Linked DNA regions of Homo sapiens: region 1 is linked to region 2. The links come from fine-mapping of genetic effects on gene expression. A gene starts in region 2. The other region holds a variant in brackets. All regions are shown on one strand. Distances are between the middles of the regions. Region 1 overlaps CLTCL1 (clathrin heavy chain like 1). Region 2 holds the start of SLC25A1 (solute carrier family 25 member 1).

Region 1 (5,372 bases), 34 kb before region 2:
CTATAGAGGTGCGAGTGCGTGCTTCCGATGGACCGGCACTATAGAGGTGAGAGTGCACGCTTCCACACGGACCGGCAGTATAGAGGTGGGAGTGTGTGTTTCGGCATGGACCAGCACTATAGAGGTGGGAGCGCGTGCTTCTTTTGCATGGGCAGGCACCATAGAGGTAAGAGTGCGTGCTTCCGCATGGGCCAGCCACCTGGGGTTCCTCTCCACTTCAAAATTCACCATCAGAGATTCTGTGTCAGATTTTAATCAACTCACATCATAAGTGCAGCTGTAAAGATTTAGTTATGAGATTTATTTTGTAGGCCAGAAAGGCTATCAAGGGCTGTAGTATTATAGAGAGGAATTTGTGTGTGTGTTTTTAAACTTGGAGATGCTATATGGTAATGGCATATGGAATGTGAAATTATATTTAATGGAATCATAAACCCTGACTAATGACAGGATGCCAGGATTAAGGTGCCTGAGGTGGCTACGATATTCTGTCTTGCTGTCTGATCAACCTCCTTTGATAGTTGTTAGTTTGTGTGTACTTCCAGGCACTTACAGGTGGCTGTAGCTCTGCTGTCTTCTTAAACACTTGCTTCTCAAACATGCAGGTAACCTCAAGTTCGTGCTCTTCTTTCATTGATGATTTCACCAGACAGTTTTATGCGTAGGTAAAAATAGCCTTGGCTGGGCGTAGTGGCTCACGCCTGTAATCCCAGCACTTTGGGAGGCCAGGAGTTTGAGACCAGCCTAGCCAGCATGGGTGAAACCCTGTCTCTACTAAAAATAAAAATTCAGCCAGGCATGATGGCAGGTGCCTGTAATCCCAGCTACTCGGGAGGCTGAGGCGGGAGAATCGCTTGAGTCTGGGAGGTGGAGGTTGCAGTGAGCCGAGATGGCACCACTATACTCTAGCCTGGGTGACAGAGCGAGACTCCATCTCAAAAAAAAAAAAAAAAGCAAAATATATTATTTTTAGAGTATATACTTGGAAGAATATACTTATGACCTAATAAATTCTTAAGCCAGTCACAGAAACCAGAAACCATAAATAAACCTTTAGTGAAAAACCAATAAGACTGTATTAAACTTAAGCACTTTATCGTAAAGAAGATGGACAAATGAGAAGCTACAAATGCGGGGAAGATATTTGCAACACAACCAACAAAAAATTAGTAGGGAAAAGTTGTAATAAAAGACAAACACAAGCAACCCAATGAGAAACCAAGCAGAGAGCTTGAGCACACCCTCCGGTGAGAGGAAGGGCAGCTTGTGAATTCAGCCTCATCAGCCACCAAGGAGGCACAGAGTGAGGCCACAGTGCATCATCCGATGCTTTGTTACTCCTGCCAGAGCAGCAGGAACCCCACTCTCCTAATCAGTGCTGATGAGGATGTTGAACAGCTGGACCTCTGACGTGCCCCTGCTGGGAATGTGCGTTACATTTGGAAACAGTTTGGTGAAAAAAGATGCACACAGCCAGCAATTTCCTCTCTTCCTTATGAGCCCTAAAGGAACTCAGCTTATTTGTATGAGGAGATGTGCAGGGATACTCAAGACAAAGCTCTAAGAGCGATCCAGATAACCATCAATAAGTAGGCTGTAGTACAGTCATACAGTGGAATACCAGATAGCAGTAGAAATGAACACTGTACATGGATGACCCTTAGCACCCAACTTTAAAATTCTTTTTTATAAAACCACCATACAGTAAAAATGACCTTCTGGAAGGGGATGGGGAATGCAGTGCTAGGAATTTTAACACAAGTGTAGATCTGTAGAATCACCACAGTCGGGATACAAACAATTCCATCACCCTTTAACATTCCCTTGTGCTAGCTACCGTGTATATTATACATTCCCCCAAACCTCAACCCCCAACCCTGGCTACCACCCCGCCACACTAGTTTTGCATTTTCAAGAATGTCATGCAAATGGAGTCACGTGGTATAGACTCCTCTGTGACAGGCTTCTTTCACCCAGCGTGATGATGCCTTTGAGATTCATCCAACTTGGTGAGTGCATCGCATCAGCCTTACATTCTTTTTTGTCACTGAATGATATTCTGTTGTACGAATGTACCACAGGATCTCTTCACCCATCAAAGTACGTTTGGGTGGTTTTCAGTTTGAGGTTATTATGAATACATCTGCTGTGAACATTTGTGTCCAGATTTTTGTTTAAACATACCCAATCACATGGTATATGTACTGTTTAAGAAACCGCCTCACTATTGTTTTCCAGAATGGCTGTGTCATTTTGCATTCCCACCAGCAATATGTGAGAGTTCCAGTCACTCTTCATCTTTAGCAGCACTTGGTATATTGGTATTTTTTTATCTTAGCCAGTCTCATAAATGTATAGCAGTGTGCCATTGTGGTTTCAATTTGCATTGCCCTAGTGGCTAATGATGATGAACAACTTTTTATGTGCTCAGTTACCATCCGTAGATCCTCTTTGGTGAAGTGTCTCTTGAAATCTGTTGCCTGTGTTTTAATTGGGTTGTTTGGTTTTTTGTTGAGTTTTCAGAGTTCTTTGTATATTCTGGATACAAGTCCTTTGTTGGATATGTGATTTCCATATATTTTCTCATTCTGTAGATTTTCTTTTATTTTCTTAATAGTGTCATTAACAGAACAAAAGTTATAATTTTGATAAAGTCCAATTCATAAACTTTTCTTTTATGGACTGTGCTTTGGTGTTAAAACAAGAACTCTGTTAATACTCCCAGGTCACAGAGATTTTCTGTTATTTCCTTCTAAAAGTTTCATTCTTTTTCATTTTATATTTAGATTCATTATCCAATAAAGTGTGAAGTTTAGGGTGAGGTTCAGCTTTTTGCATATGAATGTCCAGTTTATTCCAGCATTATTTGTTAAAAATACTCTTTCTCCATGGAATTGCTCTTGCATCTCTGTCAAAAATCAATTGGCCAGATAGTGTAATTCTTCCACCTTTGTTCTTTCTTTCTTTCTTT[TCTTTCTTTCTTTC/C]TTTTTTCTTTCTCTTTCTTTCTTTCTCTTTCTTTCCTTCCTTCCTTCCTTTCTTTCTTTCTTTCTCTTTCTTTCTTTCTTTCTCTTTCTTTCAATAGGGTCTCCCTCTGTCACCCAGGCTGGAGTGCTGTGGCATGAACACGGCTCACTGCAGCCCCAACCTCCTAGGCTGAAGCAGTCCTCCCATCTCAGCCTTCTGAGTAGCTGCAGGTGTGCACCATCATGCCTGGCTAGTTGTTTTTTTTTTTTTTTTTGGTAGAGACAGGGTCTTGCCATATTGCCCAGGCTAGTCTCAAACCCTGAGGTTCAAGCACTCCTCCCACCTTGGCCTCCCAAAGTGCTGGGATTACAGGTGTCAGCCACTATACCTGGGCTCAACTTTATTCTTTTTCAAAATTGTTTTAGCTATTGTAGTTCCTTTGCCTATCTATATAAATTTCAGAATTAGCTTGTCTATATGTACAAGAAAATCTGCTGGAACTGGAACTGCATGAAATCTATGGACCAATTTAGGGAGAATTGATATCTTTACTATGTTGATTCTATGAAAGTGATATGTCTCTCCATTTATTTAGATCTTTGATTTCTTTCATCAGCAGTTTATAGTTTTTGGCATATAGGTCATATGTAGATTTTATTAGATTTATACTTATTTCATATTTTTGGAAGTATTTTAAATAGATTTTTTGTTTACAGTTGTTCATTGAAAAACATTGTCAGTATATAGAAATACAATTGATTTTTGTATGTTGACCTTGTATTCTACAACCTTGCTAAACTCATTTATTGGATTTTTTTTTTTTTGTAGATTTCTTCAGTTTTTTTTAATCAATCATGTTGGCTGCAAATTGGGACAGTTTTGTTTTTGTTTTTTTTTTTTTTTTTGAGATGCAATCTTGCTCTGTCGCCCAGGCTGGAGTGCAGTGGCGCAATCTCAGCTCACTGCAACCTCTGCCTCCTGGGTTCGTGCCATTCTCCTGCTTCAGCCTCCCCAGTAGCTGGGACTACAGGCGCCTGCCACCACGCCCAGCTAATTTTTTATATTTTTAGTAGAGACGGGCTTTACCGTGTTAGCCAGGATGGTCTTGATATCCTGACCTTGTGATCCACCCGCCTCAGCCTCCCAAAGTGCTGGGATTACAGGCGTGAGACACCGGGGACAGTTTTATTTCTTCCTAATCTAGTGCTGCCTGTGCTTTCTTTGCGATTCATTATAGAAAAGAAACTTTTTGTTTCTTTTGTTGCCTAAATGCCTTAACCAGAACCTCCAGCACAAATAGAAGTGTGGAGAGTGGACATCCCTGCCTTGTTCCTGATCCTCGGGGAAAGTGTCCAGACTCTGTTACTTATGATGTTAACAGTGGGCTTTTTGTAGATGTACTTTCTCAGATTGAGGAAGTTTCCTTCTATTTCTAGTTGAGAGTTTTTCTCATTAATAGGTGTTAGATTTTGTCAGATGCTTTTTCTGATCATTTGATAAAGATGTAGTATTTCTTTTTTAGATTATTGATATGTGGTGTGTTACACTGATTTTTTTTCCACATTTTTGAATTGTATAAAGTTTTGCAAGAATGCATCTATTATAATTAAAGCAAAGGAAAGTTCAAGAAATGCAAAGTGACCTGGTGTGGTGGCTCACACCTGTAATCCCAGCACTTTGTGGGGGCAAGGTGGGAGGATCACTTGAGGCCAGGAGTTTGAGACCAGCTGGGCAACATAGCAAGACCCCGTCTCAAAATTTTTAAAAAGTTAAAAAAAAATGCAAAGCTGCCTATATTGCTTAGAAATACAGTAGATGTGATAAAGCTATAATGAATCACAAAGAAAGCACAGGTAGGAAAATAGGTACCTCTACAGCAGGATCCAGAGGCTGGGCTCTAAAAAGCCACAGCAGCCCTCCCAGTGGTTTGATTGGCACATTCTGATTCTCTTACCTGTGCTTTCCCAAGACTTTGCTATACTGTTTCTTTTTAGATCCCAAATACTTCACAAATACTCTGTTGTATTTACTTAGCAGTTATGTGTGTGTATATTAATTACTTTTTTAAAAAAACTGGGGGTCTGGGGATGCCTGACCTGCCAAAAAATGGTTTGTGCAGCCTTCGTTCCTGGGATGCCGTGCTGACCACCCTCTCTCCTCAGGAATCTACAGAATCTGTTGATCCTGACTGCCATCAAGGCAGACCGCACACGGGTCATGGAGTACATCAGCCGCCTGGACAACTATGACGCACTGGACATCGCGAGCATCGCTGTCAGCAGCGCACTGTATGAGGAGGCCTTCACCGTTTTCCACAAGTTTGATATGAATGCCTCAGCAATCCAGGTGGGCTGCTGAGTGTAAGCATGTCGGACCTAGCACCTTCTGCCACATCATGAGTGCGCCCT
Region 2 (5,326 bases):
GGGGTTTCCCAGTCAGTGGCATGGGGGTGTGAGCTGATTGTCAGCTTGAGCTGGTGCTCAGCTGACACCACACAGCAGTGCTGGGAGAATGAGGGCGCGGACAAGAAGCACAGTCCTTTCCTGGTGGACAGCTGGGCCTGGGGCCTCGTGGCTCATCTGGGAAGCTTGAGGGCCATCCCTCTGAGACGCCCCCAGCGCTCTCCCATTGTAGGGAGGGTACAGGCCTAGCTCAGCCCTCACCCTAGGTGTCAGCAAGTGTGCCCCCTGCTTCCTCCTCATTTCTCAGCCCCCCCCAGACCCCAGCTCATGGGGGGCACATTCTTATTTCTCTTTCTTACTCAGTGTGTTTGTGAGGGGATCCTAGCTGCACAGTTGCTGCCGCCCCTCTAGTGCAGTGCTGCCGCCTCGCTCTCTGGCAGTGGGTGGGGTCAGTGCCTGGTGAAGCCTCAGGGAAGAGTGAGGAGGCAGTTTGTCCTCAGTGCTTCTCAGGTGAAGTGTCTAGGTGCCAGGTGACTTGTCTCTGAGAGCCACATGATCTCTCTGCTGGTTTGGAGGGGCGGGCAAACTAGACTGGCCAGAGCCAGAAGCAGACAGTGTTCCCTGCACATGGCCCCAGCCCTGCAGGTCGGTAAGTGGCAGTGTCCCTGTATCCAGAGGAGGACTTGGCCCCCCATAAGCAGGCCACATGCACAGCCTGTAACAACTGACTGCCCCAGTGCCCACTGGGAAGCTCTGGGGGCCCCACCTGGCGTTCCATCTCAGCCCAGCTACCGAGGCTTCACCTCTCCATGCCTTGCTGCATTCTAAAAGTGCATGGGGTGTGGGCTGAGCCACTCCACATCTGCCCATGTGCACCTCCTCCACTGTCATTCTCCTGGAGGCCCTGTGTCCTGACCTTCCACTCCACTTTCACCTAGAGGCCGGACTGCACTCTGTCAAGCGGGTGCTCACGTGCTTTTGCCTCCTTGCAGGTGGACAAACTGGATGCCTTGGAGAGTCTGCGCAAGCAAGAGGAGCATGTGACAGAGCCTGCCCCTCTCGTGTTTGGTAGGTGGCACCTGTAGCCCCCAACCCCCTGGGGAGGGAGCAGGGAGGGAGTCAAAGTCCCACTGCCCTTACCTGGCTGGGCTTTGGATGGGGATGGGAATAGATGGGTGGGGGCTGGAAGGATCCCAGTGGCTACTGGGTGTGGAGAAGTGTACGCCCAGGAATGTTGGCACGGCCGCTGTCCTCCCTGCTGTAAGGATGCCTGCCTTCTGATAGGGGTGCCTGCCTAGCTGTGAACTACTGCTGTGTCCTGCTGGGCCTGGCCCCTGGACAGCAAGGCTGCTGCTGGTGTGTGCTGGGAGGGGCTTTGCACCTGAGAACCTGCCCAGGGCAGCCTGGCTGTCGAGCAGACTGGAGAGGCTGTGGGGTGCTTGGACACTGTGGGGCAAACACAGGCCTGAGGGTGTGGTGTGAGTGTGCAGCACGCCGGCGGGTCTCCAGCGTCCGGCTGAGTGTGTCCTTCCACCATTAATGTCATTCTGGTTTTTTTAGATTTTGATGGGCATGAATGAGACCCAGCTGATTGCACTAAGTAAGTGTCCCATTTGGAGACTAGCTTATCCTCTAGCCAGGCCAGGTTCTCTGGCTGACCCCACGCTCCTTGCCTCTGGATGCCTGCTCTCTTGGGGCCTCAGCGTCTGGGTGGTAAGGGCTGGTCCTATAGACCCTGCTCCCTGGGCCCCGGGCTACTCAGGGGCAGCCAGGAGAGGACCCCCATGGGCAGGAAGAGCTCTGCTCATTGTGGGCTTCCCCCTCTGCAGGCCCTGCCGTGGGCCCAGCCCCTGCCAGCTTCCCCTATGGATATGCCTCTGCTCCCAACTTCGCCAGCCTCCAATGTACAACTTCCGCGTGTAGTGGGCGTTGTCACCACCCACCCTACCTGCAGAGTTACTAACTTCTCCAAGGAGCATGTCACTCCAGCAGCACAGGGGACGCAATGGGAGGCAGGGACACCTGGACAATATTTATTTTTGCTGAAACCCAATGACGGCAACCTCTGAGCCATCCCAGAGCCTGGGGAGGCCAGGGTAGAGGCTGACGGCGCAAGACCAGCTTTAGCCGACAACAGAGACTGGACTGTGGGCCCTCCTGCTGGAGCCAGGCCTTCCTCCTGGGCGCCTCCGACTGGCTGGAGCTGCCCCCTCCAGGCCAGTTTGAAGACTACATGAACACGTCTTGTTTGGAGGTACCGGACCTCATAAAAGGACTCTCAGCCTCTTGGCAATCATAAATATTAAAGTCGGTTTATCCAGGCAAAGGTGCTCTGCTTGGTGCTGGTATGGGTAGGAGGGACGGGCCAGTTTCCTAGGCCCCGCAGTCCATTAAAGATTTGCTGGGTCCTCTTTGGGGTGTGGGACCTCCGTTGCCCAGACAAGCTGCCTAGGAGAATACAGCCGCTTGCATTTGTGGTCTTTCCTGACCTTGTTCGCTGAGCGCAGAAACTACAACCGGGAAAGGTGTGGGTGGGAACCGGCAGGTGAGGCCCGGCCCGTGGCTGCTGCGGGAGGGGGGCCCGGCGGCGTAGCCCCTTCTCACCGGCCTCCCGCCTCCCGCCTCCAGGTTTGAAACGTTAGAGTTCCTCTGGGACTGGGCTAGCCCCACGTGTTTTCGGGGAGGGTGTGCCCCTGGCCTCCGGGATCCCTGGGGATCCCGCCGCTCTCGACAGTCGCGCAGACCCGAGGCCCGCTATCCCGCGGCGCGGCACACAGTGCACCTTGACCCACTGCTCGGAGCTGGGCCACGGCTCCGCCTCCCGCAGCCCCGCCCCCGTCCCGCCGCTCGCGGTCGCCCAGGGACTCGGCCTCGGCCATTGGCTGCGCTTTGGCCCCGCCCCTACGCCTGCCTCGGCGCGCCCCGCCCAGGCCTCAGTTTCCCGGCCCGCACGGGGCGGGCTGGGGGCGGGGCCTGGCTCGGACCACGCGGGGCGGGACCTGGAGCTGACGCGGCCGCCCCGCCCCTGGGACCATAACCGGCCGCCGCCGCCACCGCGGACCGAGCGCGGAGTTCTGGAGTCTCGGACCCGAAGCCGCCACAGGGCGCCCCGCCTCCCGCCCGCCATGCCCGCGCCCCGCGCCCCGCGCGCTCTGGCGGCCGCCGCGCCCGCGTCCGGGAAGGCCAAGCTGACGCACCCGGGGAAGGCGATCCTGGCAGGTGGGCCCCTCCGGGACGCGGACCCCTCTCCCGCCGCGCTTCTGGGTGGGCCCGGGACGCTGAGGCCCCGCCCCACTTCCGGGTTGGGCCGTGGGCTGGGGAGTCGTGGAGGCGCGGTCCTGGTCCCCACCCGGCGCGCTGGGACTCGCCCGCCTCCCGTCTGTCACCCCCTGCGCCTCGCCGGGACAACGGGGTGAGGGCATGGGGGCGTGGGGCCCCAGCCTATGTTCCCCGCGGCACTGGCGCGGCGGCCGCGCCGACCGAAGTCCGGGACGGGGGAGGGGCCCGAGCGCCAGCGGCCGGGCGGGAGTCTCAGGAGCGGGTTCCCGGTCCCTGCAGGCGGCCTGGCGGGTGGCATCGAGATCTGCATCACCTTCCCCACCGAGTACGTGAAGACGCAGCTGCAGCTGGACGAGCGCTCGCACCCGCCGCGGTACCGGGGCATCGGTGAGGAGGGGGAGGCCGCGGCGCCGCGGGGGGCGGGTACCCAGGGCGGCGGCACCGAGGGCCGTGGGGTCCTGACCGCCCCCTCCCCCAGGGGACTGCGTGCGGCAGACGGTTCGCAGCCATGGCGTCCTGGGCCTGTACCGCGGCCTTAGCTCCCTGCTCTACGGTTCCATCCCCAAGGCGGCCGTCAGGTGAGGCCCGGCCGGTGGCTGCTGCGGGAGGGGGGCTCGGCCGCGGCAGCCCCTCTCACCCGCCTCCCGCCTCCAGGTTTGGAATGTTCGAGTTCCTCAGCAACCACATGCGGGATGCCCAGGGACGGCTGGACAGCACGCGTGGGCTGCTGTGCGGCCTGGGCGCTGGCGTGGCCGAGGCCGTGGTGGTCGTGTGCCCCATGGAGACCATCAAGGTGGGGAAGGTCCTGGCGAGGACCCCGGACACGCAGGGAGTACGGAGACGGGCGGCCCCGCTGGCCCGGTGCTCCCGGGGCAACCGGCAAGCTGGGGAGGGTCTCCTGGACGCCAGGGAAGGCCGGCGGGGTGACCGCGGGGCCCTGGGGCAGGACGCCTGCCACGAAGGGCCACCCGTGGAGGCTGAGTCTATGCTAAAGGCAGCCTTAAAGTCTTTAAAAAATACTTTTATAAAGCAGAAAACAAAATGACACCTTCACTGCCAAAACTGGAAAAGAGCAGCAAACATAAAGGGAGAGGCTGCTCACAGGGCTGCCCTGTGTCCCAGAGCATGGTCCGTGTGGGCTGCCCTGTGTCCCGGGGCATGGTCCGTGTGGGCAGCCCAGGGCGGCCTTGGCTGCACTGCTTCCTGGGGAAGAGTTCCCAGTTCCCTCCACCCTGGATGGGCCCTGGGCCTGCCAGCTAGCCAGGACCCACCCAGGTGGCAGCCGAGAACCTGCGCCTTTGCTTCTCTCTCTCAGGTGAAGTTCATCCACGACCAGACCTCCCCAAACCCCAAGTACAGAGGATTCTTCCACGGGGTTAGGGAGATTGTGCGGGAACAAGGTGAGCCACTCGACCTTCCTGATAGGGCTCAGGGACCTGGGCCAGGGTGGGAAGGGCCTGCACCTCCCATCCTGCCTTGGGCTTTGTGCAACACCCACCCCCCACACACACCAATTCCCAACCGGGGCCTGAGAGGCTGCAGGGTAACCCCGTGCCTGCCTTCCCGCAGGGCTGAAGGGGACGTACCAGGGCCTCACAGCCACTGTCCTGAAGCAGGGCTCGAACCAGGCCATCCGCTTCTTCGTCATGACCTCCCTGCGCAACTGGTACCGAGGTGTGTCTGCATCACAGGGCCCCATCTCTGCACATGGCCAGCTCCTCTCCTCTCCTTGGGGCCACCCCTGGGTGGCGGGCACCCACCTTTTGAAGTGCTGATCCAGGCCCCTCCCGGCACCCTCTGACCCACCTCACCCCTCCTATATCCAGGGGACAACCCCAACAAGCCCATGAACCCTCTGATCACTGGGGTCTTCGGAGCTATTGCAGGCGCAGCCAGTGTCTTTGGAAACACTCCTCTGGATGTGATTAAGACCCGGATGCAGGTGGTGGGGCCGGGAAGGGGAGGGGAAGGGGGGACCAGGCCAGAGCTAGCTGCTGAGCCCCTGCCTGCTGATGTCCCCCATAGGGCCTGGAGGCGCACAAATACCGGAACACGTGGGACTGCGGCT

The links. PIP is the estimated chance that this variant, and not a neighbour inherited with it, causes the effect.
Region 1: its variant is the best candidate, but not a certain one, in a credible set for the expression of SLC25A1 in whole blood (INTERVAL, PIP 0.66).

What each region holds. Positions count from the first base shown.
Region 1 is chr22:19,210,264-19,215,635 of GRCh38, reverse strand. It overlaps CLTCL1 (clathrin heavy chain like 1), which reads left to right. Exons shown (of 33, transcript NM_007098.4): 20 at 5,127-5,310. Among named protein-coding and RNA genes, the nearest start is that of SLC25A1, 34 kb to the right of the region's middle. The variant TCTTTCTTTCTTTC/C (reference allele first, on the strand shown) is at 2,972.
Region 2 is chr22:19,176,452-19,181,777 of GRCh38, reverse strand. SLC25A1 (solute carrier family 25 member 1) reads left to right here and starts at 3,042. Exons shown (of 9, transcript NM_005984.5): 1 at 3,042-3,198; 2 at 3,538-3,645; 3 at 3,737-3,836; 4 at 3,913-4,051; 5 at 4,574-4,658; 6 at 4,828-4,932; 7 at 5,085-5,200; 8 at 5,284-5,326. The coding sequence starts at 3,105. CLTCL1 (clathrin heavy chain like 1) reads left to right here. Exons shown (of 33, transcript NM_007098.4): 31 at 972-1,047; 32 at 1,540-1,579; 33 at 1,809-2,305. The coding sequence ends at 1,559. RefSeq lists silencers at 2,446-2,545, 2,746-3,825 and an enhancer at 2,997-3,744.